7 linked regions of the Homo sapiens genome follow. The protein of the gene in region 3 purifies or fractionates together with the protein of the main gene of each other region. This does not show direct contact. Each region holds a gene or a part of one and is shown on either strand. Other genes may lie near its edges.

Region 1 (3,935 bases), on a different chromosome or scaffold from region 3:
TTCCAAGATATAAGTACCCATTCATAATACATATTAGGGAGGTTTTTGTAAGTTTTATAGACATCTTATTTTATTTTATCTTATTTTATTTTATTTTATTTTATTTTTATTTTATTTTATTTTATTTTTGAGATGGAGTCTCGCTCTGTTGCCCAGGCTAGAGTGTAGTGGCGTGATCTCGGCTAACTGCAACCTCCACCTCCCAGGTTCAAGTGATTCTCCCGCCCCAGCCTCCCAAATAGCTGGGACTATAGGCATGTGCCACCACACCCAGCTAATTTTTGTATTTTTAGTAGAGACGGGGTTTCACCGTGTTAGCCAGGATGGTCTCGATCTCCTGACCTCGTGATCCACCCGCCTCGACCTCCCAAAGTGCTGGGATTACAGGCGTGAGCCACTGCGCCCAGCCTTATAGACATAAGTGAATATTTGCTGTTACTATGTTTATATGGCTTTTTAAAGTGATGTTTTAAAAGGCTTGTTTATAATGACAACCAAAAGTAGCCATTGTAAGGTTACACCAAAAGAAGGATCTCTAAATCCTTCTTGAGTTCCCCTCCTGACTCCTTGATTAGCAAATGGCTTCCATAAGCAACTCACGCTGGTTTAACTCAGGTTAGTTTACACCATTGGACCTTCCCAAATAGTACATTGTTTTTTTGAGATAAAGCATTGAGAGAGCTCTCCTTAACGTGACACAATGGAAGGACTGGAACACATACCCACATCTTTGTTCTGAGGGATAATTTTCTGATAAAGTCTTGCTGTATATTCAAGCACATATGTTATATATTATTCAGTTCCATGTTTATAGCCTAGTTAAGGAGAGGGGAGATACATTCAGAAAGAGGACTGAAAGAAATACTCAAGTAGGAAAACAGAAAAAGAAAAAAAGGAGCAAATGAGAAGCCTAAAAAGAAGGGAGGAGGAGAAGGAAAACCCAACACCCCCACCTGCCTCCCACTTCTTATCCAAAGGCTCAAAGTCCCACCCAGCTCCCTGCAACCATCACTTCTCACCACCTCCTCTGATTTAGCATCCTGGTGCCTACCTCCTATGTCCCTGTTCATCTAACAAACCAGCCCTCCCATTTCCACCCTGCAAATCTCTCCCGCCTGCCCCAGTCTCCCCATTTACACACCTAAATTGGCTAAAATCTCCCCATAAGTTTTTCCATTAGTCCCTCAACTGGCATGTAATAGTCCAAGTGGAAAGAAATTCAGTGGCAGTTCAACAACACAGAACTAACAGAGCTCTCTCCTCTGCCTTTGTCTGCCAGGGAGTACTTTGTGGAGATGTACTATCGGAATGAGACGCAGCACGAGCCGTATCCCCTCATGCTACCTGGCTGCAGCCCCAGCTGTCCTCTGGAGAGGTTTGCTGAGCTGGTTGGCCCTGTGATCCCTCAAGACTGGTCCACGGAGTGTATGACCACAAACAGCCATCAAGGTACTGAAGACAGTACAGATTAGTGTGCACAGAGATCTCTGTAGAAGGAGTAGCTGCCCTTTCTCAGGGCAGATGATGCTTTGAGAACATACTTTGGCCATTACCCCCAGCTTTGAGGAAAATGGGCTTTGGATGATTATTTTATGTTTTAGGGACCCCCAACCTCAGGCAATTCCTACCTCTTCACCTGACCCTGCCCCCACTTGCCATAAAACTTAGCTAAGTTTTGTTTTGTTTTTCAGCGTTAATGTAAAGGGGCAGCAGTGCCAAAATATAATCAGAGATAAAGCTTAGGTCAAAGTTCATAGAGTTCCCATGAACTATATGACTGGCCACACAGGATCTTTTGTATTTAAGGATTCTGAGATTTTGCTTGAGCAGGATTAGATAAGGCTGTTCTTTAAATGTCTGAAATGGAACAGATTTCAAAAAAAAACCCCACAATCTAGGATGGGAACAAGGAAGGAAAGATGTGAATAGGCTGATGGGCAAAAAACCAATTTACCCATCAGTTCCAGCCTTCTCTCAAGGAGAGGCAAAGAAAGGAGATACAGTGGAGACATCTGGAAAGTTTTCTCCACTGGAAAACTGCTACTATCTGTTTTTATATTTCTGTTAAAATATATGAGGCTACAGAACTAAAAATTAAAACCTCTTTGTGTCCCTTGGTCCTGGAACATTTATGTTCCTTTTAAAGAAACAAAAATCAAACTTTACAGAAAGATTTGATGTATGTAATACATATAGCAGCTCTTGAAGTATATATATCATAGCAAATAAGTCATCTGATGAGAACAAGCTATTTGGGCACAACACATCAGGAAAGAGAGCACCACGTGATGGAGTTTCTCTAGAAGCTCCAGTGATAAGAGATGTTGACTCTAAAGTTGATTTAAGGCCAGGCATGGTGGTTTACGCCTATAATCCCAGCATTTTGGGAGTCCGAGGTGGGCAGATCACTTGAGCTCAGGAGGTCAAGATCAGCCTGGGCAACATGGTGAAACCTGGTCTCTACATAAAATACAAAAACTTAGATGGGCATGGTGGTGTGTGCCTATAGTCCCACTACTTGTGGGGCTAAGGCAGGAGGATCACTTGAGCCCCGGAGGTCGAGGCTACAGTGAGCCAAGAGTGCACTACTGTACTCCAGCCAGGGCAAGAGAGCGAGACCCTGTCTCAATAAATAAATAAATAAATAAATAAATAAATAAATAAATAAATAAAAACAAAGTTGATTAAGAAAGGAAGTATAGGCCAGGCACAGTGGCTCACACCTGTAATCCTTGCATTTTGGAAGGCTGAGGCAGGAGGATCACTTTAGGCCTGGTGTGTTCAAGACCAGCCTGGTCAACATAGTGAGACACTGTCTCTACCAAAAAAAGGAAGGAAGGGACACATATCAAACTGAAACAAAATTAGAAATGTAATTATGTTCTAAGTGCCTCCAAGTTCAAAACTTATTGGAATGTTGAGAGTGTGGTTACGAAATACGTTAGGAGGACAAAAGGAATGTGTAAGTCTTTAATGCCGATATCTTCAGAAAACCTAAGCAAACTTACAGGTCCTGCTGAAACTGCCCACTCTGCAAGAAGAAATCATGATATAGCTTTGCCATGTGGCAGATCTACATGTCTAGAGAACACTGTGCTCTATTACCATTATGGATAAAGATGAGATGGTTTCTAGAGATGGTTTCTACTGGCTGCCAGAATCTAGAGCAAAGCCATCCCCGCTCCTGGTTGGTCACAGAATGACTGACAAAGACATCGATTGATATGCTTCTTTGTGTTATTTCCCTCCCAAGTAAATGTTTGTCCTTGGGTCCATTTTCTATGCTTGTAACTGTCTTCTAGCAGTGAGCCAAATGTAAAATAGTGAATAAAGTCATTATTAGGAAGTTCAAAAGCATTGCTTTTATAATGAACTTAGAAAAACGTATGTGTGTGTGTTTAATTAGAATAAAATTCCTCTAGGCAGATTTCAGGAGCTCCCTTTGTGTTTGGGGTTTTTGTTTTAGTATAACAAGATGGAAAATATTAATATAAAGTAAAATGATTTGACTGGCTTAAATGAACATTTTACATTGAAAATATAGTTTGGACTTTACCACTTCAGATAAAGGTGAAGCTGTGGATGGCTCTGCCTCATCTATTTAAGATGGAATTTGCTAAGGAAACACCCTCAGGAAGTGCACAATATACTAGGGAAGTAAAGAGATACATACTGTACAACATGGAAAAACCAGGGCTATGTCTTATGACTACACAGATTACTGTGGGAACAAGAGTTATCCAGATTTGGAGTAGGGGAAGTAAGGAAGGTCAGGAAAGGCTTTCTGCAGAAGGTAGCAACTGTACCACGTAAAATCAGTTTGAGGCCAGGCGAGGTGGCTCAGGCCTGTAATCCCAGCACTTTGGGAGGCCAAGGTGGGCGGATCACAAGGTCAGGAGATTGAGACCATCCTGGCTAACACGGTGAAACCCCAT
Region 2 (3,500 bases), on a different chromosome or scaffold from region 3:
TGATTGGCCATGGCTGTATACTTGTCTTTCATTGGTACTGAATCCAGACTGACCCTAGGCATCTCTTGATGGCCCATGACTTAATACCTATCTGGCAAAACCTGTGCTGGATCTTACCTGCCCATGAAAAGTTGTATCTCCGAAATGTTGCTGGCTAGATCCATGTATACCTATTGTATTGAACTCTAACTTCCCATGCCTAGATCCTAATTGCTCATGAGTGTCTTTCTCCCAATCTTCTGAATGCTTTTTGTTATCAGTATGGGATTCCTGTTTTCTGATTGAACTAGATTTTGAATGGCCATGAACTGATATGGATTGTCCATGGCCAAATCCAAGGTGGTCATTTGACTGGCTATGTGTACATCCCTCCCTTCTGGCTGTGTTATATCCAGGTTGAACATAGGTGTTGTTTGACTGTTTATGAGTTACTATAGAATGTCCATGACTAGATTCCTGACTTCTTATAATAATAGGTCGAGACTGATACTGAGAATCAACTGAATGTTCATAACTTACCATTGACTGTTCATGATTTAAACTGTGTCTTCCTGTTCTTTTAGTTGCTTTGGATACTATAAGGTCAGAACTAGAAAATAACTGTCAATGTCTAGACAGTTGCTTGTTTGCAGTGCTGTCTGTTGACCATGAAAGGTGAGAATTACTGATGCTTTTTCTGCTGCCACCAGAAGGCCCATACCCAGTGTGCCCATAGTCATATTCTGCAGGTCCATAGCTGCCATGTTTCCAAACCTGACTTGATCCATGCCTTTGCCTTTCACTACTATGTGACTGAAAATGACTTGCTCTACTAGATCTGGAACCTGTCTGTGTGGATTGTCCATAACCAGAATGGCCATGTCTAGTGGTATCTCCTGTCTGTCCATGAGTAGTTTCCAGTCTCCCATGAACTGTGGATCCTGGCTGTCTTTGTTGAGATCCAGCTTGGCCCTGAATGTGTCCTGAATGTGTGTGTGAGCCCCATGAGTGCACTTCACTGTCACTGGACTCACTGTGGCCAGATCCCCTTCTTCCAGTTGTCCTGGACCCTCTCTGTGTGGATTGTCCATAACCATAGTGGGCATGTCTAGTGGTATCTCCTGTCTGTCCATGAGTAGTTCCCTGTCTCCCATGACCTGAGGATCCTGACTGTCCATGTCGAGATCCGGCTTGGCTGTGAGTGTGTCCTGAATGTGTGGGTGAGGCCTCTGAGTGCACTTCACTATCACTGGACTCACTGTGACTAGATCTTTGTCTTCCAGTTGTCCTGGAACCTGTCTGTGTGGACTGTCCATGACCAGACTGGCCATGTCTAGTGGTATCTCCTGTCTGTCCATGTATAGTTCCCTGTCTCCCGTGAATGGCAGATCCTGACTCTCCATGTTGAGATCTGGCTTGGCCATAAGTGTGTCCTGAATGTGTGTGTGAGACCCCTGAGTGCACTTCACTGTCACTGGACTCACTGTGGCCAGATCCCCTTCTTCCAGCTGTCCTTGACCCTCTCTGTGTGGACTGTCCATGACCAGAGTGAGCATGTCTAGTGGTATCTCCTGTCTGTCCATGAGTAGTTCCGTGTCTCTCATGAACTGAGGATCCTGACTCTCCATGTTGAGATCCGGCTTGGCCATGAGCGTGTCCTGAATGTGTGTGTGAGACCCCTGAGTGCCCTTCACTGTCACTGTACTCACTGTGGCCAGATGCCCTTCTTCCAGTTGTCCTGGACCCTCTCTGTGTGGACTGTCCATGACCAGAGTGGCCATGTCTAGTGGTATCTGCTGTTTGTCCATGAGTAGTTCCGTGTCTCTCATGAACTGAGGATCCTGACTCTGGATAGTGAGATCCAGCTTGACCGTGAGTGTGTCCTGAATGTGTGTGTGAGACCCCTGAGGGCCCTTCACTGTCACTGTACTCACTGTGGCCAGATCCCCTTCTTCCAGTTGTCCTGGACCCTGTCTGTATGGTTTGTCCATGACTAGGGTGGCCATGTTCAGTGGTATCTCCTGTCTGTCCATGAGTAGTTTGGTGTCTCTTGTGAACTGTGGATTCTGACTCTCCATGTTGAGACCTGGCTTGGCTGTGTGTGTGTCCTGAATGTGTATGTGAGCCCCCTGAGTGCACTTCACTGTCACTGGACTCACTGTGGCCAGATCTCCTTCTTCCAGTTGTACTGGATCCTGACTGTGTGGACTGTCCATGACCAGATTGAGAATGTCCACTGGTATCTCCTGTCTGTCCATGAGTAGTTCCATGTCTCTCGTCAACTATGGATTCTGACTCTCCATGTTGAGATCCAGCCTGGCCGTGAGTGTGTCCTCGTGAGTGTGGTCTTTGTGAGAACCCTGAGTGCCCTTCACTGTCACTGTACTCACTGTGGCCAGATGACCTTCTTCCAGTGGTCCTGGACCCTGTCTGTGTGGACTGTCCATGACCAGAGTGGGCATGTCTGGTGGTATCGCCTGTCTGTCCATGTATAGTTCCATGTCTCTCATGAACTATGGATTCTGACTCTCCATGTTGAGATCTGGCTTGGCCATGAGTGTGTCCTGAATGTGTATGTGAGACTCCTGAGTACCCTTCACTGTCACTGTACTCACTGTGGCCAGATCCCCTTCTTCCAGTAGTCCTGGACCCTGTCTGTGTGGTTAATCCATGATGATAGTGGGCATGTCTAGTGGTATCTCCTGTCTGTCCATGAGTAGTTCCATGTCTCTCAGGAACTATGGATTCTGACTGTCCATGTTGAGATCCAGCTTGACCATGAGTGTGTCCTGTATGTGTGTGTGAGACCCCTGAGTGCACTTCACTGTCACTGGACTCACTGTGGCTAGATCTCTGTCTTCCAGTTGTCCTGGACCCTCTCTGTGTGGACTGTCCATGACCAGAGTGGGAATGTCCAGTGGTATCTCCTATCTGTCCATGAGTAGTTCCGTGTCTCTCATGAACTGTGAATTCTGGCTCTTCATGTTGAGATCCGGCTTGGCCGTAAGTGTGTTCTCGTGAGTGTGGTCTGTGTGAGCCCCCTGAGTGCACTTCACTGTCAGTGGACTCACTGTGGCTAGTTCTCTGTCTTCCAGTTGTCCTGGACCCTGTCTGTGTGGTTTGTTCATGACCAGAGTAGGAATGTCTAGTGGTATCTCCTGTCTGTCCATGAGTAATTCTGTGTCTGTCATGAATTATGGATTCTGACTCTCCATGTTGAGATCCACTTTGGCCGTGAGTGTGTCCTGAATGTGTGTGCGAGCCCCCTGAGTGCACTTCACTGTCACTGGACTCACTGTGGCCAGATCCCCTTCTTCCAGTTGTACTGGACCCTCTCTGTGTGGATTTTCCATGATGATAGTGGGCATGTCTAGTGGTATCTCCTGTCTGTCCATGAGTAGTTCCGTGTCTCCCATGAACTGTGGATCCTGACTCTCCATGTTGAGATCCGGCTTGGCCATGAGTTTGTTCTTGTGATTGTGGTCTGTGTGAGCCCCCTGAGTGCACTTCACTGTCACTGG
Region 3 (3,210 bases):
CATTAGTCTTCCTAACATCTTAGGAACTTTGTACATGCTGTTCACTTTGCTTGGATTATTCATCTTCAAGTCTCAATAGGGTGGCCTCCCTCAGGAAGCCATGATCCCTCAAGATAAGTCAGCCTTGCCACCTCCGACTTCGATAGCTCTGTGTTCTCCTTAGCATTTTACACAGCCTGTCATAATACATTTTTTATTGCCTGTCTTCCCCTCTGGACTGAGTCCTGTGACAGCAGAGCCTGGAGCTGTCTTGGTTGCCACCATGTGCCCAACATTGTACAACATTTATCTGAGCACCTGGTAGGTGGTCAACAAATAGGGAGGGAAGGGATGAATTAATCTGATGTTACAGAAGTTATCTTTACCCTGAAAGCACAGTGAGCTATGGGTTTTAAGCAGGGCAGACATAATACAATTTGAGCTCCGAGCATTCCAGACCTTTGCACGTGCTATTTCTTCTATTTACTATGCCTTCCTTCTCTATCTTTGTTTGGCTCAGTTCTACTAATTTCTCAAGGTCTTATCCTTTGCAGGATGCTTTCCCTGAGCCCATCATGTTTCCTCTGGGATCCCTGCCTTGTGGCCTTTTTCCATCACAGCCCTGATCACTGTGGGCTATCACTGTCAGGGGACTGTGTGAGTCTGTCTGCCAGGACTGTAAACTCCTCGAAGGGAGTATTAGAAATGTTCTGGTCATCACTGAGGAAAGCTTTGAAAATGATTATTGAAGGAGAGTGGTGGGCTGCCTGTATACCCACACTTACAGGTATCTCCCTACACAGATGTCACCTGTGAGAATCCCAGATGTCCTTTCTCCCAGCTCCCAGCACTGCCCTCCCAGCTAGACCTATGTGAGCAGGTGTTTGGGCTCTCAGCCTTGTCAGTAGCCCAGGCTGTGGCTCAGACGAACTCCTACTACGGTGGCCAGACCCCTGGGGCTAACAAAGTGCTGTTTGTTAATGGTGAGCATGCTATCAAAACCTGGCTGCTAAGCCTCCACCTAGCCCCAGCTCAACATAGCCTCATCCTCTCCCAGCACCCATCTACCTAGCCCCATCCTATCCTTTCTTTCCAGGGGACACAGACCCCTGGCATGTGCTAAGTGTAACACAGGCTTTAGGATCCTCAGAATCAACTCTTCTTATCCGCACTGGCTCCCACTGCTTGGACATGGCACCTGAGAGGCCCTCAGACTCCCCCAGCCTCCGCCTAGGGCGCCAGGTAAGAGAAAAAAGGCTCTGAATCATTTGCATTCTCATTTGAATAATCACTTGCATGTTCCCTCCTTCTGCTGGTGCTGAAATCTGACTTTCAAATTCTTCCCACCTCCCCACAGAACATCTTCCAGCAGCTACAGACCTGGCTCAAGCTGGCAAAGGAGAGCCAGATTAAGGGTGAAGTCTGAATCTCATACCCTTTCCACTCCCTGCATGGTCACCTCAGTCCTGGACATACTTGTTCACTGAACAAAAGAAAGCAGCTTGTTTTGAAAGAAGAAACTCCCAGGAATTGGAATTCAGCACCTGTTCCGCACGTAATTGGCATGTGTCTGCAAACATCCTTATTCCCAACTTAAAGTGCTTTATTGCAGAGAGTTATGGAAATATAAGTGGATGATTATTCTCATTGTAAATATTGGTATTTTGAATGTTAAATGTCAAACAAATGTGACTTATGCTGGTGCCCTCGCCCTGCTGATCAGATTCTGGTTCAAATTCTGCCACTCCAGCTCCTGGGTTAGGGGCTTTGCTGTAAGTTTCTTTTTCTGGACTTTAGATCCTGAACCTGTCCTTGCTTCTCAGTTTCTCTCACTGTACCCCTTTCCCTCAGTCTCTTCCTCTCTCTTTCCCCTGTCACTATTTGTCTTTCTAATCTCCTTCTGTTTCTCTGAATATCTTCATTTCTATCTCTGTGTTTCTGTCTATTTCTCTGTTTATCTTTCTGTCCTTCAATCTGTGTTTTTGTTTCTGGCTCTCCGTCAGTGTCTTTTTCTCTCCTCTCTCTCTTGCTCTGCCATGGCTATTTCCACTGCTCTATTTCTGACTCTCATTTTTGGTCTCTGTGTGTCTCCTAGTCACTTTCTTTCTCACTCTGTCTCTGTCTCTATTTCTGTCTCTCCTCTGCTGTGTCCTCAATCTCTCTGTCTCCCTGAGGCTCTATTTCTGTCTCTCCTCTGCTGTGTCCTCAATCTCTCTGTCTCCCTGAGGCTCTATTTCTGTCTCTGATGCTCTTCTTCTGTGTCTCTATTTCTCTTCCTGTCACTTAATCTTTTCCTTCTCTATCTCTCTTATTTAGTCTTCCTTCCACACCCTTCACTCACCATCTTTTCCCACAATCAAATATCACTCCCTGGTACTTCCAGCTTCCAACTCTAGGGATTCATGATTCTGGTGGAGATTCCTTCTTCCAGGGCCTGGGAGGATAGGGCTAATCCCAAGGGTGCCTGCTTAGGCTATGTTAGCTGTGACAGGAACCTGCCATAGATTTGCACTGTTCTTTCCTAAAGATCAATTATTTTCAGCAATAAATACTTCTCAGCTTTTTGTATGTCTTTGTATGCACAGAGATGGTAGTTTTAGAGTTTTATCCAGTTTCATATTTCCTTGTGGGTAAGAGGCAACCTCCTCATGCTGTCATACCAAAGTCAATCTCCACTACACTTTAGTTCTGCCTGTTCTTGATCTTTATATAAATGGAAACTTGCAGTATATATTATATGTTTTTGTGTCTAGAAGTTTGAAATCAAGGTGTCAGCAGAGCCATTCTCTTTCTCACAGCTCTAGGGGAGAATCCTTCCTTGCCTTCTAATCCTTCCTTGACCAAAAATGAGAGTCAAAAATAGAGCAGTGGAAATAGCCAGGGCAGAGCAAGAGAGAGAGGAGAGACAAAGACACTGACGGAGAGCCAGAAACGAAAACACAGATTGAAGGACAGAAAGATAAATAGAGAAACAGACAAAAACACAGAGATAGAAATGAAGATATTCAGAGAAACAGAAGGAGATTAGAAAGACAAATAGAAAATGCTTCTGTGCTTCTTCTGGCTTCTGGTGTTTGCCAGCATTCCTGTGTTCCTTGGCCTGTAGATGCATTACTCCAGTCACATGGCCATTTTCCCTGTGTGCCTTCACATCACCTTCCTTCTGCATGTGCCTATCCATGTGTCCAAATTTCCCCTTTTATGAGGATACCAGTTATCTTGGGCTAGGCC
Region 4 (3,500 bases), on a different chromosome or scaffold from region 3:
GGAAAAATGAGCTCCTGGCAGAGTGACCTTGGGTGAGGCACCCCCGTCCCTGAGCCTCATCTATGAGACTCCATACCTATGAAGCTGGGATAACACTTATCCTACTCATTTTATAGGCAGGACTAAACTAAAAGACTCAAAAGACATAATCTCCCAAAAGTGTATTGTAAACTATAAGGCAGGATATGATAGACCTGGAACTTCCAAACAGGAGACTGACCTAATTGGCCTTTGGTGGGCACCTTCTCTGACTTCCCACCTCCCTGCTGCCCACTCCTCTCCAGCCAGCCTTGGAATCCCAGCAGAGGGCAAGCTCCTGGAGGATTCACCTCTGCAGCCCACACCCAGGACCTTGTTCATGTCACACCCCGTGCCCAACCCAGAGCCAGGAACAATGGGAAACACAAAACACAATGGGAAATCTAACAGCATCTGAAATCCCACTCTCAAGGGGCAGGTGATTAACTCAGAAAGGAATAGGACACTCATGAAAAGATCCCCAGTGGATCACTTGCTGATGAATAATCCCCAGTGGACTTCCCCAGTCCTAACCAGTGTCTTCTTCCCATCCCTCTTCTCATGCCACATGCCCACTTGGATCACTCACCACCCCTGTGCTGAGCTGCTCCTGTTCCTCCTCCACATCCCCCAGGTCTCCTGATTCCACCACCACTACATCTGCATGTGACTGCATGTGACCACCACTCCGCACTCCAACAGACCCTGTCTGATGATCTTGAACACCTCCCACACTGTGAAGACTCTCTGCCCACCCACTCTCACCTCTCCCAGCCCCCTGGAGGCCACCTATGAGAGACTGTTGGCATGCCCTCCATCCACACCCTGTCTCAGAGAGAAAACCTGCCAGTCCCACACCCCCAAGCTGATGCCCACCTTCAACACTCCCATCACTGACTCTTTCAAGAGGGATCACCTAACCCCAGCTAGGCTGACAGATTCTCTCTGCCCAATTTTGGAATTAAGGTATAAAAGGCTGGGGATATGGGGGTTTTGTGCTGTCACTGGATCCTAAGTTTTGGGTTGAGGCCAGACCATCTAGATCTGTGATCCATGACCAAGCAGAAGTTAGGGCTAAGGGCTAAGGGCTCTGTTGGTCTGTGGAAAAGGGAACAGATCAAGTCCCACTTCCCTATCTATAAAAGCAGTATGGAGTAGCAGTGAAGGGCATGGCTTTGGAGAGACATGGGTGAATGACAGCTTTAGCCAAACAGCCCTGGGTGGAAATCATAGCTCTGCCACACTTACCATGTGATTTTATAGGCCAGTTTCCCCTTTGGAGTCTAAATTTCCACATCTTTTAACTGGAGGCATTTCTACCTTCCTCTCCAGGATGTTGCAAGGGCGAGAGCGTGTATGTAAAGCTCATAACCCAATGCCAGGCACAACACGGGAGCCGGCTCACTAAAGGAGCCATTAGCGTCCTAGCCTCCGCTTCCTGCCGGCAGCTCCATGGGATGTCTTGCAGCTCTGTAATAAACTTCCCCTTTACCTGAGCTTTTAGGAATGGGTTCCTACCCCTTGGAATGAAAGGTCATGTCATGACTAAGAAAGGCAGGACAGGATAGTTGCCACTAAATGTTTCCTTCAACATTCATTCCACAAATATTTATGGAGCAATGATGATAGGCCCTGGGCTAAGTGCTGTGGCAAGAGTGGTAAACAATCAGACCTGGCTCCTGCCCTGCCTTGAGGAGCTTACCGTCTAATGCAAATAAATATCACCCACTATGATTTGTGAGTGCCACAAAGGAAAAGAGCAGAAGGTAATGCTGACAGCAACAAAGGACTCACTTACATAGGGTGGTGGGGAAGTGATACTTAAGCCGGGCTCTTGCAGGATGCGGAGTCAGACATGTAAGTGCAGGCCGAGGGAACTCAGGCAAAGGCCCCGAGGCACAAAGAAGCTTGGCTGCTCCAGGCACTGGGAGAAGGCCATGGGCTAAATGTAGTAGATGAGGGACCCAGATGAGGTTGGAGGGGTAGCAGGGTCATTTAATGCAGGACCCCACAAGCTATAATCGGGAGGTTGCATTTACTATAGGGGCAGTGGAACCCCACTGAAGGACAGTACTACACTGTGATTTGTGGTTGTGAACAGACTGAAAGTGGTCAAGGGAAAGATTGCCTGGAATTAAGAGTCAGGCTGGAGGGCAACATAGGAGCAGGACTAGTTTTCTGGGTGGGGCTGTTTTCATAGATTCTAAGGCAGCCTGATCCACACAGAGAATTGATTCTGGGCTGGGGGTGGGGGTAGGGTATCCAGAGTACCTACCGGAGAAGAATCCCTTCCCCTCTCCTAAGCTCTTCTTTCCCCAGGCCCTGGGGGAGACGTAACAAGATGGCTTCCTGAGGGTAATGCCCGGCTAGCTGTCTCTGTAGTGACAAATTCTGCTGCTGAGTCCAGGCTCATCAGGGAAGGGAGGTGTAATGGATTAGCAGTGCCCACCAAGGCCAGGCTGGTCACCAGATATCTGCCATTCCAGCCTAGGCCAACTAGTGGGAAGGGGTGGTACAAGACGGAGGGGAAAGGCACAGCTCTGGAGGCAGAGATATGGGTACTACAGGTATGAGTTAAAACCCAGCTCAGCCAGTCTTACTAGCTAAGACCATGGGTAAGTTAACCCCCTAGGGGTTCAAAATTTCCTCATTTATTATGTGGACATAATGATATCTTCTCACAGGGCTATTGTGAGGGTAAGATGTTTGTATACAGAAAGCACAGGGCACAACTCCTCAAGACTGCCAAGCTCATGAATAAACAAGGAAAGACTAAGAAGCTGTCATAGGCTGGAGGAGAGGGGGGACTACAATTATATGTGTCATGACAACAATGGCAGTGCAGTACCCTGGATTGGATCCTGGCTCAGAAAGAGGGCATTAATGGGAAAACTGGTGAAATCCAAATAAAGTCTAGAATTCAGTTAACAGTAATGTACTAATGTTGGTTTCTTAGTGTTGGAGATATGTACATATAAGATGCTAACAGGGAAAACTGAGTCAGGAGTATATAGAAACTCTATATTATCTCTGTAACTTTTCTTTTTTTTTTTTTTTTCTTGAGACAGAGTCTCACTCTGTCATCCAGGCTGGAGTGCAGCAGCGTGATCTCAGCTCACTGCAACCTCTGCCTCCTAGGTTCAAGTGATTTCTCCTGCCTCAGCCTCCCAAGTAGCTGGGACTACAGGTGTACGCCACCATGCCTGGCTAATTTTTGTATTTTTAGTATGGACAGGGTTTCACCATGTTGGCCAGGTTCAGGTTGGTCTCAAACTCCTGGCCTCAAGTGATTTGCCTGCCTTGGTCTCCCACAGTGCTGGATTATAGGGGTGAACCACCACGCCCTGCTGCAACTATTCTATAAACCTAAAATTATTCCAAATTTTTTTTTAGGAAAAAAGCACATAGCCCAGTACATAGCACATAGTATGGGTACAACAAATGACAGCCACTATACAGCACTATAGAGTCTATTAAGCACC
Region 5 (2,609 bases), on a different chromosome or scaffold from region 3:
GTAAGCATTTTAGTTCTCATAACTCCTCTCTCAAGTAGGTGCTGCTATTACTTTCATTTCACAGATGAGGACATTGAGGTTTGGAGAGACTTAGTAACTTGTCCTCTGTCCTACAGCAGAGCTGGGATTTGAATCTATCTGTCCAAATCTGGAACCCATTTGCTTGCACAGAAAGCTTAATTGCTTGTCCCAGCAAGATAGAAAGCCTGGGAGTGGAAGAAATATTCAGTGGCTGTGATGTCTGAGCCCACAGGCAGGGTGGAGAGCTAGGGCTGGGGCCCTTGGACGTGGGGAAGAAAGGGCTGAGTCTTCCATTTTCAATGTGAAGTGTTGATATCTGGTGATATTGATCTAGGTCCAAAGGTGAAGAACTTAAACCCGAAGAAATTCAGCATTCATGACCAGGATCACAAAGTACTGGTCCTGGACTCTGGGAATCTCATAGCAGTTCCAGATAAAAACTACATACGCCCAGGTGACTCTCAGTTTTGGCTGTGTTTTCTGCCTCCACCTAGCAGGGGTAAGGCCTCCTGCTAGGTGGGCTCAACTCCATGCTATACCATGCCCCATCTCCAGCAGGTGGTGGAAGCGAGGAGGAGAGGCCCCAGGGACTAGGGCATCAGATGAAGGGTCTCTAGCAATGACCAGATCTGAAAGTAGTCTTTCTGGAAGGGCTGGAGAAAAAGAAGGAGGCAGACACTTAGACTGGAAGAAGAGGAGGCTTAAACCAGTGTGATGGAGGGAGAAGTGGACCACAGAGTCAAGGGAGAGGGACTGTGCATCAGGCCTGAAACCCCAGCAGACAGGAGAGACCTTTCCCTGCTCTCAGAACCCACACATGTTCTGACTGTCTTTTTCCAGAGATCTTCTTTGCATTAGCCTCATCCTTGAGCTCAGCCTCTGCGGAGAAAGGAAGTCCGATTCTCCTGGGGGTCTCTAAAGGGGAGTTTTGTCTCTACTGTGACAAGGATAAAGGACAAAGTCATCCATCCCTTCAGCTGAAGGTGAGAGTTCTAGCTCAGTTTCCTGGGCCTTTGGCTACCCCAAAGTAAAAGGCCAAGATCCTCAATGCCTCTCGCTTTCCTGCAAATTCTTATCTTGGCCAATATAACAGGGACATCCACCTTTCTGGAAGCACCAGGCAGAAGAGCCCCATAACTTCTTCTCTGGTTCCTTGCCCCTTCTAGGGAAGGAGGAGAGACTCCTCACAGCGGGGAGACAGCAAGGAGCTGAGCACCTGTTCTCCTCTCCTGGGCTCACTGGTCCTGGCCCTGGGCGGGTGGCGGTCCCCTCCTGCTGTGGCCCTCCATGTGGCAAGCAACACAATTGGGCCAGGACCCTGGCGTGCTGCTGTAGGGTAGGAGGGTGTGAGGGAGCACTCGGAGGGCAGTGTGTCTGCCCTGCAAATTTAGTCCTGGATGGAGCACCTTTCACTTGAGGGGAGAAATCTTAGGAAGCTGAATTAGATACAGATCTAAGCCATATTCTCTAATTTTAAAAACTATAGAGCTGAGATTTTGGTATCCATCTGACTCTTACGTCTCTCTCTCTCTCTCTCTCTCAGTTTATTTTTAATCTGGGGGACAAGAAGGCCTGGAAAAGAGGGCAGGATTGCTTATCATCCCTTAAATACCAGTACCAAGGCTGACACGTCATCTTTCCCAAGGACCATCTGCCTTCTCTCTTTTCCTCCTCTCCTGTGTAAAGGCCTGGAGGATGAGCACATGTGCTGTGTTTTCCTCCCTCTCAAAGCCTGTGCTATCTAATTAATCCCTTTTACCTCACAGAAGGAGAAACTGATGAAGCTGGCTGCCCAAAAGGAATCAGCACGCCGGCCCTTCATCTTTTATAGGGCTCAGGTGGGCTCCTGGAACATGCTGGAGTCGGCGGCTCACCCCGGATGGTTCATCTGCACCTCCTGCAATTGTAATGAGCCTGTTGGGGTGACAGATAAATTTGAGAACAGGAAACACATTGAATTTTCATTTCAACCAGTTTGCAAAGCTGAAATGAGCCCCAGTGAGGTCAGCGATTAGGAAACTGCCCCATTGAACGCCTTCCTCGCTAATTTGAACTAATTGTATAAAAACACCAAACCTGCTCACTAAACTTTCTGTCATTGGGTTTCATTTCTCATTCATGCTTTAAGGATTTGTGTTTTTAGGATATAGCAAGAAGCTTGTTTAATTACAAAGTTCTGGGTTGGAAAGAGACCGGCTTCTGCTTGTGTACTGCTACCCTGAACCATCAGACATGCATGTGTGTGTCATATGCTATGATGTGGCCAGTCTGAGTGCAATACTTGCAGTGGGAAGGAGCAGCTGGGTGCATGCTGTGCTCTAGAATTAGTCTTTCCTACTGGGGTTTGGTAGATTCTGAGGGCATTGATCCTGGGGCAGAAGTGGCTGAGTCTGTGTCTAGGGTACAGTGTGCAAGAAAGAAATGTAACAGCAAGTCACAATCCAGCCAAGTGATAGTGGAAAAGGGGTAGTTAGGTCCCAGATAAGGAGCAGGGTGACTTGACCTGTGGGAAAGGCACAGAGACAAGGAATCTGGGTCAGATGACAGCCAGGAGACCAGGTGAGGGAGGAGCCAGGTACTGTCTGGGA
Region 6 (3,500 bases), on a different chromosome or scaffold from region 3:
AGGATGATACTATACATAGTATATATCAATAGGATGATGCAGGCATACTAGTTTCATTCCCAAACTTGGAGATGAAAGCTTTCATTTCACCATTAAATATAATTTTTGCTATGACATTTTTCAAAGACATAATCTTTTATTTATTAATCAGAATTAATATTGGATTTTATCAATTTTTCATCTATTGAGAGGTTCATATAATTTTCCCCATTATTCTATTTCAGTACTTAATTGGTTGGTTTTCAAATGTTAATCCAAAAATGAATTTTGGAATAAAATGTAGTTAGGAATAACATATATTCTTTTTATATACTACTGAATTCAGTCTGCTATTATATTCTTTCAGAGTTTTGCATCTATATGAAAGGAATTGTCCTGAAAATTTTGATTCTTATATCGTTGTCAGGTTATGGTACTGAGGCCAGTTTGGATTAATAAAATGGGTGTTTCCTGTTTTTCATTTCTCTGAAATAATCTATGTGATGTTATAGTTATTTCTTTCTTTCACTTTGAATAGAATTCAGTAAAGCCATCTGACCTGCAGTTTCTCCCCCACTGGAAATGAATGCATTTAAGATTCAATTTCTTTAATAAACATAGTACTATTTAGGTTTTCTATTTATTGTTGGTTCAGTTTTGGTAACAAGTGTTTTTCTAGACATTTCTTCTATGTCATCTAAATTTTCAAATTAGCTGGTATAATGTTTTTTATAATATGCTCTTGTCATCTTTCTAATGTCTAAAACCTCGATAGCAATGTCCCCTTTTACTTTCCTGATATTGGTACTTACTCTTCTTTCCTTGATTAATCTTGCAGGGGTTATCAGTTTTATTAGATTTTTCAAAGGCTGAATCTTGGCACTGTTGGTTCTCTAAATTTTCTTTCTCTTTTATTAATTTTAGTTATCTTTATTATTTCCTTCATTATACTTTCTTAGGGCTTAATTTGTTCTTTTTAAAACTTCTTGAAATATATGCTTAGGTAATTAATTTTTCAGTCTTTCATATACATATATATACACACACAACTGTATGCTGCTTATAAGATTCACACATAAAAAATGATAACAGTGATTGAAAATGAAAGGATGGGAAAAAGAGATATCATTCATATATATATGTATGTGTTTATATACATATATATGTGAGTGTATATATGTATATATGTGTGTGTGTATATATATATAGGCTATAAATATCTATTAGGCATGGAATTAATGTATTCCACAAGTTATGCTATTTCATATTTTTCTCATTTTCATTTAGTTCAAAATATTTTCTAATTTTGCATTGTAATTTATTCAATGACCCATTGATTATTTAGAAGTCATTAATTTTCAAACACTTAAAGATTTTTCTAGTTATCTTCCTATTATTTAATGCTTGCTTCATTCCACTGTGTTAGAGAACAAACTCTATGATTTCAACCCTTTAAAATTTATTGAAACTTGCTTTATGGCCCAGTATATGGTCAATTTCAAAAGAATGGATATTCTGCAGTTGTTAGGTGTAGTGTTCAATGTATGTTGATGTTTTATTAATAATTTTGTAGAAATATTCTACATTCTTACATATTTTTTACTTCTTCTATCAGTTGCTGAGAGAAGTGTATTTAAATACCCCACTATGATTGTAGATTGCCTGGTCCTCCTTATACTTCTGTCGATTTTTATTTATGTATTTTGAGGCTTCCTGGAGAATTGATCTTTTATTATTATAAAATTTCCTTCTAGCAATATTTTTTGCCTTAAAGTCTGCTTGACAGATATGAATATAATAATAACAGCTTTCTTTTAGTGTTTGAATGGTATCTCTTTCTTCCACCCTTTCATTTACAATCATTTTAATCACATTTTATGTGTGTCTCTTATAAGCAGAATACAGTTGGTTTTTTTTAATCCAGTCTGACAGCCTTGTCCCTTAATTAGCATATTTACTCTATTTATATTCAGAGTTATTATGGAACTATTTGGTTTACATCTCTACAATATTACTACTTGGTTTCTACTATCTCACCTGTTCTGTATTTCTTTTTCTATTCTTGACTTTTTTGGATTAAGTTAATATTTACCAGTTAATTATCTTTATACAAAAGCTTATTAATTATACACTCTTTTATTATTATCTGCATCCTTGCCCTAAAAATTATAGCATGCATCCTTGATTTGTTAGGGTATATTATTAAGAAAAAAATACTTTAACCCCTACCCAAATAATACAAGTATCCTACAATACTTAACTCCATTTTCTCACTGCCTTATCTGGGATTGTTATGTATTTTAATTCTATTTATCTTAAATCCTGAAAGATTACTATTATTATTTTATGCAATCAATATCTAGCTATATTTTTCCACACATATGCTCTTTCCATTGTTCTTATTCTTTCTTGCTCCTCTGTGCTTCCAACTAGAATTATCCTTTAATATTTCCTTTACAGTAGGTCTCTGGTGATTAGCTCTGTTTTTCTTTGCTTGAAAATATCTTTACATGTTTTCTTTTTGGTGGATATTTTCACTGTTAACATATAACTTATTTTGCTTCAGAAAGATGAATATAACATTTCATCGTCTTTTAGCTTCCATTGTTTCTTTTGAAAAGACAAGTATCAATCTTATTGTCGCTCCTTTGAAGGTAATACAAGTGTTTCTCTGTCTGCTCTTAGGATTTCCTCATTGCCTCAAATGTTCAGCAGTTTTATTATTATATGTCTTGCTTTGGTTTTCTTTTATATCTCCTGCTTGGAGTTTATAATATCGTTTTGAACCTGTACCTTGATATCTTTCATCAGTTTTAGAAAATTTTGTCTTTTAATTCCCCAAATACTATATTTCCCTCTAAATCTGAATGTAAGCCCCAATAAATTGTCACAATCTTGATAGCTCTGTGATACCTTCAAACACACACACACACACACACACACACACACACATTTTCTAGTTGTATTCAGAGTTAGTCTGAAACTAATAAACAATTGCACAAAGCAATCTTTAAAAATCAAACCATATTAGATCACTCTCTTACCAAAAAATATCATCTAGTCTCATCACACCTAAAATAAAATGCACAAATGTCACCTTATTTAGAAGATCATTATCTGACCCGTCTGTATCTCTGACTTTATGTTGTATTACTCCTGCTTTGTCCACAATTTTCTAACTGAGTTGGTCTTTTTCTATATCTCTAACATGACAAGCTGATTTTCATCTTGGAATCTTTGCACTGTTCCTTGTGCTAAAATTCTCTAATTAACAAGGCTACTTCCTTCTTATTTTTCCATTTTAAGTTCAAATGTCCCCTCTACCACAAAACCTCCTTTCCTTAAAGTACCCCCAAATATTCTGTATAATAGCACTCTTATTTTAGTTATGTACATATCACTTATCAATATCTAATTGTTGAATTAATTTATTGTTTGTTTATTGTCTTCACAAAAGTAGGCAGGCACCTCATCTATCTTGTTCACTACTATATCTCCAAAGCATGAAACAGTGCCTAACC
Region 7 (2,862 bases), on a different chromosome or scaffold from region 3:
TGGTGGTAGGTCCTATTATCTAACTTCAAGTCCCTGCTCTGCCATTTAGTAGTAAATCACATAATTCCGTCATGTTTCTGTTTCCTCATCTGTAAAATGGATATAACAGTACTTACCTCATATGTTGTTCTGAAGAATAAGGCTTTAATCTCTGTAAAATGTTTACAACAGCACTTAGTGAGTTATTTGTAAATGTATACAACCATAATGATGTTATTGTTGTCTTATGTTTTACCAGACTGGCCCAAAGTCCAAAGAACATATTATTCAAGCAGTGCGATTCCATGTTAAACATGAGTCAAATTTAGCTGAAGGAGCAAGTTTGGACAAGATGCCTAAAGCACAGCAGTTTTTCACAATGTTAGAATTGATAAGTGCTGTAATGTATCTGAAAATATAAGTAATAAGTAGGTTTGCAGTGGTGTGCTAAAGCCAGCTTATAGACATGCAGGAACCAATTGTTAGTTGACGTGTTGATGGCTTCAAACCAGTCAGTGAAAGTATTTACATTATGGAAATCAGGAACTTTTTTCCTCACAAAGAAAGATTGTTGTTAAAAATTTACCTGCTCACCACTGGATTTGGGACGTCTGAGGGTATGAGGCATTTGGTTGGTGGAATCATGCTACTACATCCTTTTGCACTCTTGGCTTGGGTGTGTGTCTTTTCATTTCATCAGCTGTCCTAAATTCTGGAAGAAACCTGTCAGGGTAAAGTGTGTATTCTGTCTTTGGCTCAAAAAATTATAGGAATGCTGACCCCAGTTGCACATGATTCTCTATCAGCCTAATACCTAAACAGGAAATGCTTTAAAGTATCCTAAGTTCCAGCTCAACCTTCTTTTTAGCTATGTGATGAAGGCAAAGCTTTAGCCGTAATGACTCTCAATGTTAACATTAAAAAAAAAAAAAAAAAAGGTAGACGTAGAGAAGCTGGCACAGATGAAACCCCAATGAATGTTTTTGTATTCCTTTTTTAAAATGGCATTTGCAAACATTCAGTCAATGTGTGAAGTTTGTATCTATCACAGAATACACAAAGAAAATCACCTCTGCTGCCTTGCCTGGGAGAACTCAAGCCAAGCTTCCCTCTACCAAATCTCACTTCTGGAGACAGAGGCCTGCAATTGTTCTTATCAGAAAGTTTCTGTTGAAGGATATTCTTTAAAAATGTAATTTATCTCTTTAGAGTCATTTTGAATATGGGGAAAAGAAGAAGAGATTCTCTTTCCCCTCTAAGATTAAGACCCACTGCTAGCCAGTTGTTAGGTGTTTTTGAGAACCACGGCCCTCAATTTTTGACAGTGAGCTCTATCTACTTTCAGACTCTTGTTACCACCCTGATTAATAACAACTTTTTCTAAGAACTTCATCTATTCTAGGCATTACTTTGAGCATTGCTTGCATTAATCCTCATGCCAACTCTATGAAGTAGGGTTATCAGCCCATTTTACAAAGGAGAACACTGATTCATAGAGGGGTTAAGTGATTTTTAAATAAGCTTTGGAGCTAGAATTCTGAATATGAGTAATCTGACTTCATATCTCACTTTTGGCTACATTGTTCATTTCACACACTTCTAGTCAACTGACATTTAAGCCAAATGTATACAGAAGACTGTATCATATAAAGACAATGTGAAAAATGGCAAGAAAATTTTGTTTTAAAGAAGGCGGCCTGGCGCGGTGGCTCATGCCTGTAATCCCAGCACTTTGGGAGGCTGAGGCGGGCGGATCACCTGAGATCAGGAGTTCGAGACCAGTTTGGCCAACAAGGCAAAACCCCATCTCTACTAAAAATATAAAAATTACCTGGGTGTGGTGGCCCATCCACGTAATCCTAGCTACTTGGGAGGCTGAGGCAGGAGAATTGCTTGAACCTGGGAGGCAGAGGTTGCAATGAGCTGAGATTGTGCCACTGTACTCCAGTCTGGGCAACAAGAGCGAAACTCCGACTCAAAAAAAAAGCTAATATTGTGACTTTGGTAGTGGGAGAGTGGGGAAGGCCATGGATTTAATTTTTTGCTGAACGATGATTTTCTAAAATGTCCTCCTCCTCCCTCTTTCCAGGTGGCAGATATCTACCTAGCATCTCAGTACACATCCTATGCCATAAGTGGTCCCACAGTACAAGGTGGCCTCCCTGTTTTTCGCTGGGACCGTTTCAACAAAACTCTACATCAGGGCATGCCAGAGGTCTACAACTTTGATTTTATTACCATGAAACCAATTTTGAAACTTGATATAAAATGAAGGAGGGAGATGACGGACTAGAAGACTGTAAATAAGATACCAAAGGCACTATTTTAGCTATGTTTTTCCCATCAGAATTATGCAATAAAATATATTAATTTGTCACTTTCATTTCCCACTGACTTTGTTGTTTTTACAGTAAGCACTCACTATAAGGTAGAGCACTGTAGAAGAAATGTTACATATATATATAAATAACACTAAGCTTCGGCATACATGCTAATACACAAGAGGGTATGGAAGAAACAGCTCCTTCATTCACCAGAATTCATGTTCTCCTTTCACGCCTGCTCACACAGACCACATCTCCCAGTGTCCCTCAGATAGTTGTGCCACATGACAATTCTAGCCATTGGAACCTGAGACGAGTGCCACTTCCAGGCCTCGCCCATAAGAATCTGTACTCCTCCTATGCTCTTTCCCCTTTCCCTGGATGAATATGCCTAATGACAAAACCCTAGGGGATGCTGGAGCTTCGTTTTCAAAGGAACCTCTAGTAGTAGTTGGTGATTGTAGTTAGTGATTTTTCTGGTCATTAACAGGCATAAGTTGAGTCTTTTTGTGATGTAGGTTAGGCATACAATACAGTAAAGCTTACTGTTGCCTCCTAT

Evidence for each region.
Region 1: the proteins of PRSS16 (region 3) and ACP3 purify together in Homo sapiens (affinity purification with mass spectrometry; one large-scale study listed by BioGRID and IntAct). This does not show direct contact.
Region 2: the proteins of PRSS16 (region 3) and FLG2 purify together in Homo sapiens (affinity purification with mass spectrometry; one large-scale study listed by BioGRID and IntAct). This does not show direct contact.
Region 4: the proteins of PRSS16 (region 3) and GM2A purify together in Homo sapiens (affinity purification with mass spectrometry; one large-scale study listed by BioGRID and IntAct). This does not show direct contact.
Region 5: the proteins of PRSS16 (region 3) and IL37 purify together in Homo sapiens (affinity purification with mass spectrometry; one large-scale study listed by BioGRID and IntAct). This does not show direct contact.
Region 6: the proteins of PRSS16 (region 3) and FLG purify together in Homo sapiens (affinity purification with mass spectrometry; one large-scale study listed by BioGRID and IntAct). This does not show direct contact.
Region 7: the proteins of PRSS16 (region 3) and PLBD1 purify together in Homo sapiens (affinity purification with mass spectrometry; one large-scale study listed by BioGRID and IntAct). This does not show direct contact.

Annotation. Positions count from the first base shown.
Region 1 is NC_000003.12:132,355,407-132,359,341, forward strand, and holds the end of ACP3 (prostatic acid phosphatase isoform PAP precursor), read left to right. Parts: intron 1-1,279; coding exon 1,280-1,472; 3' UTR 1,473-3,435; downstream 3,436-3,935. UniProt on the Homo sapiens protein: A non-specific tyrosine phosphatase that dephosphorylates a diverse number of substrates under acidic conditions (pH 4-6) including alkyl, aryl, and acyl orthophosphate monoesters and phosphorylated proteins.
Region 2 is NC_000001.11:152,350,007-152,353,506, forward strand, and holds part of FLG2 (filaggrin-2), read right to left. Parts: coding exon 604-3,500; 3' UTR 1-603. UniProt on the Homo sapiens protein: Essential for normal cell-cell adhesion in the cornified cell layers. Important for proper integrity and mechanical strength of the stratum corneum of the epidermis.
Region 3 is NC_000006.12:27,253,911-27,257,120, forward strand, and holds the end of PRSS16 (thymus-specific serine protease), read left to right. Parts: intron 1-782; coding exon 783-962; intron 963-1,075; coding exon 1,076-1,221; intron 1,222-1,336; coding exon 1,337-1,405; 3' UTR 1,406-2,710; downstream 2,711-3,210. UniProt on the Homo sapiens protein: Protease that may play a role in T-cell development.
Region 4 is NC_000005.10:151,256,185-151,259,684, reverse strand, and holds part of GM2A (ganglioside GM2 activator isoform 1 precursor), read right to left. Parts: intron 1-3,500.
Region 5 is NC_000002.12:112,916,774-112,919,382, forward strand, and holds the end of IL37 (interleukin-37), read left to right. Parts: intron 1-355; coding exon 356-475; intron 476-861; coding exon 862-1,004; intron 1,005-1,787; coding exon 1,788-2,036; 3' UTR 2,037-2,109; downstream 2,110-2,609. UniProt on the Homo sapiens protein: Immune regulatory cytokine that acts as a suppressor of innate inflammatory and immune responses involved in curbing excessive inflammation.
Region 6 is NC_000001.11:152,318,740-152,322,239, reverse strand, and holds part of FLG (filaggrin), read left to right. Parts: intron 1-3,500.
Region 7 is NC_000012.12:14,503,161-14,506,022, reverse strand, and holds the end of PLBD1 (phospholipase B-like 1 precursor), read left to right. Parts: intron 1-2,068; coding exon 2,069-2,251; 3' UTR 2,252-2,362; downstream 2,363-2,862. UniProt on the Homo sapiens protein: In view of the small size of the putative binding pocket, it has been proposed that it may act as an amidase or a peptidase.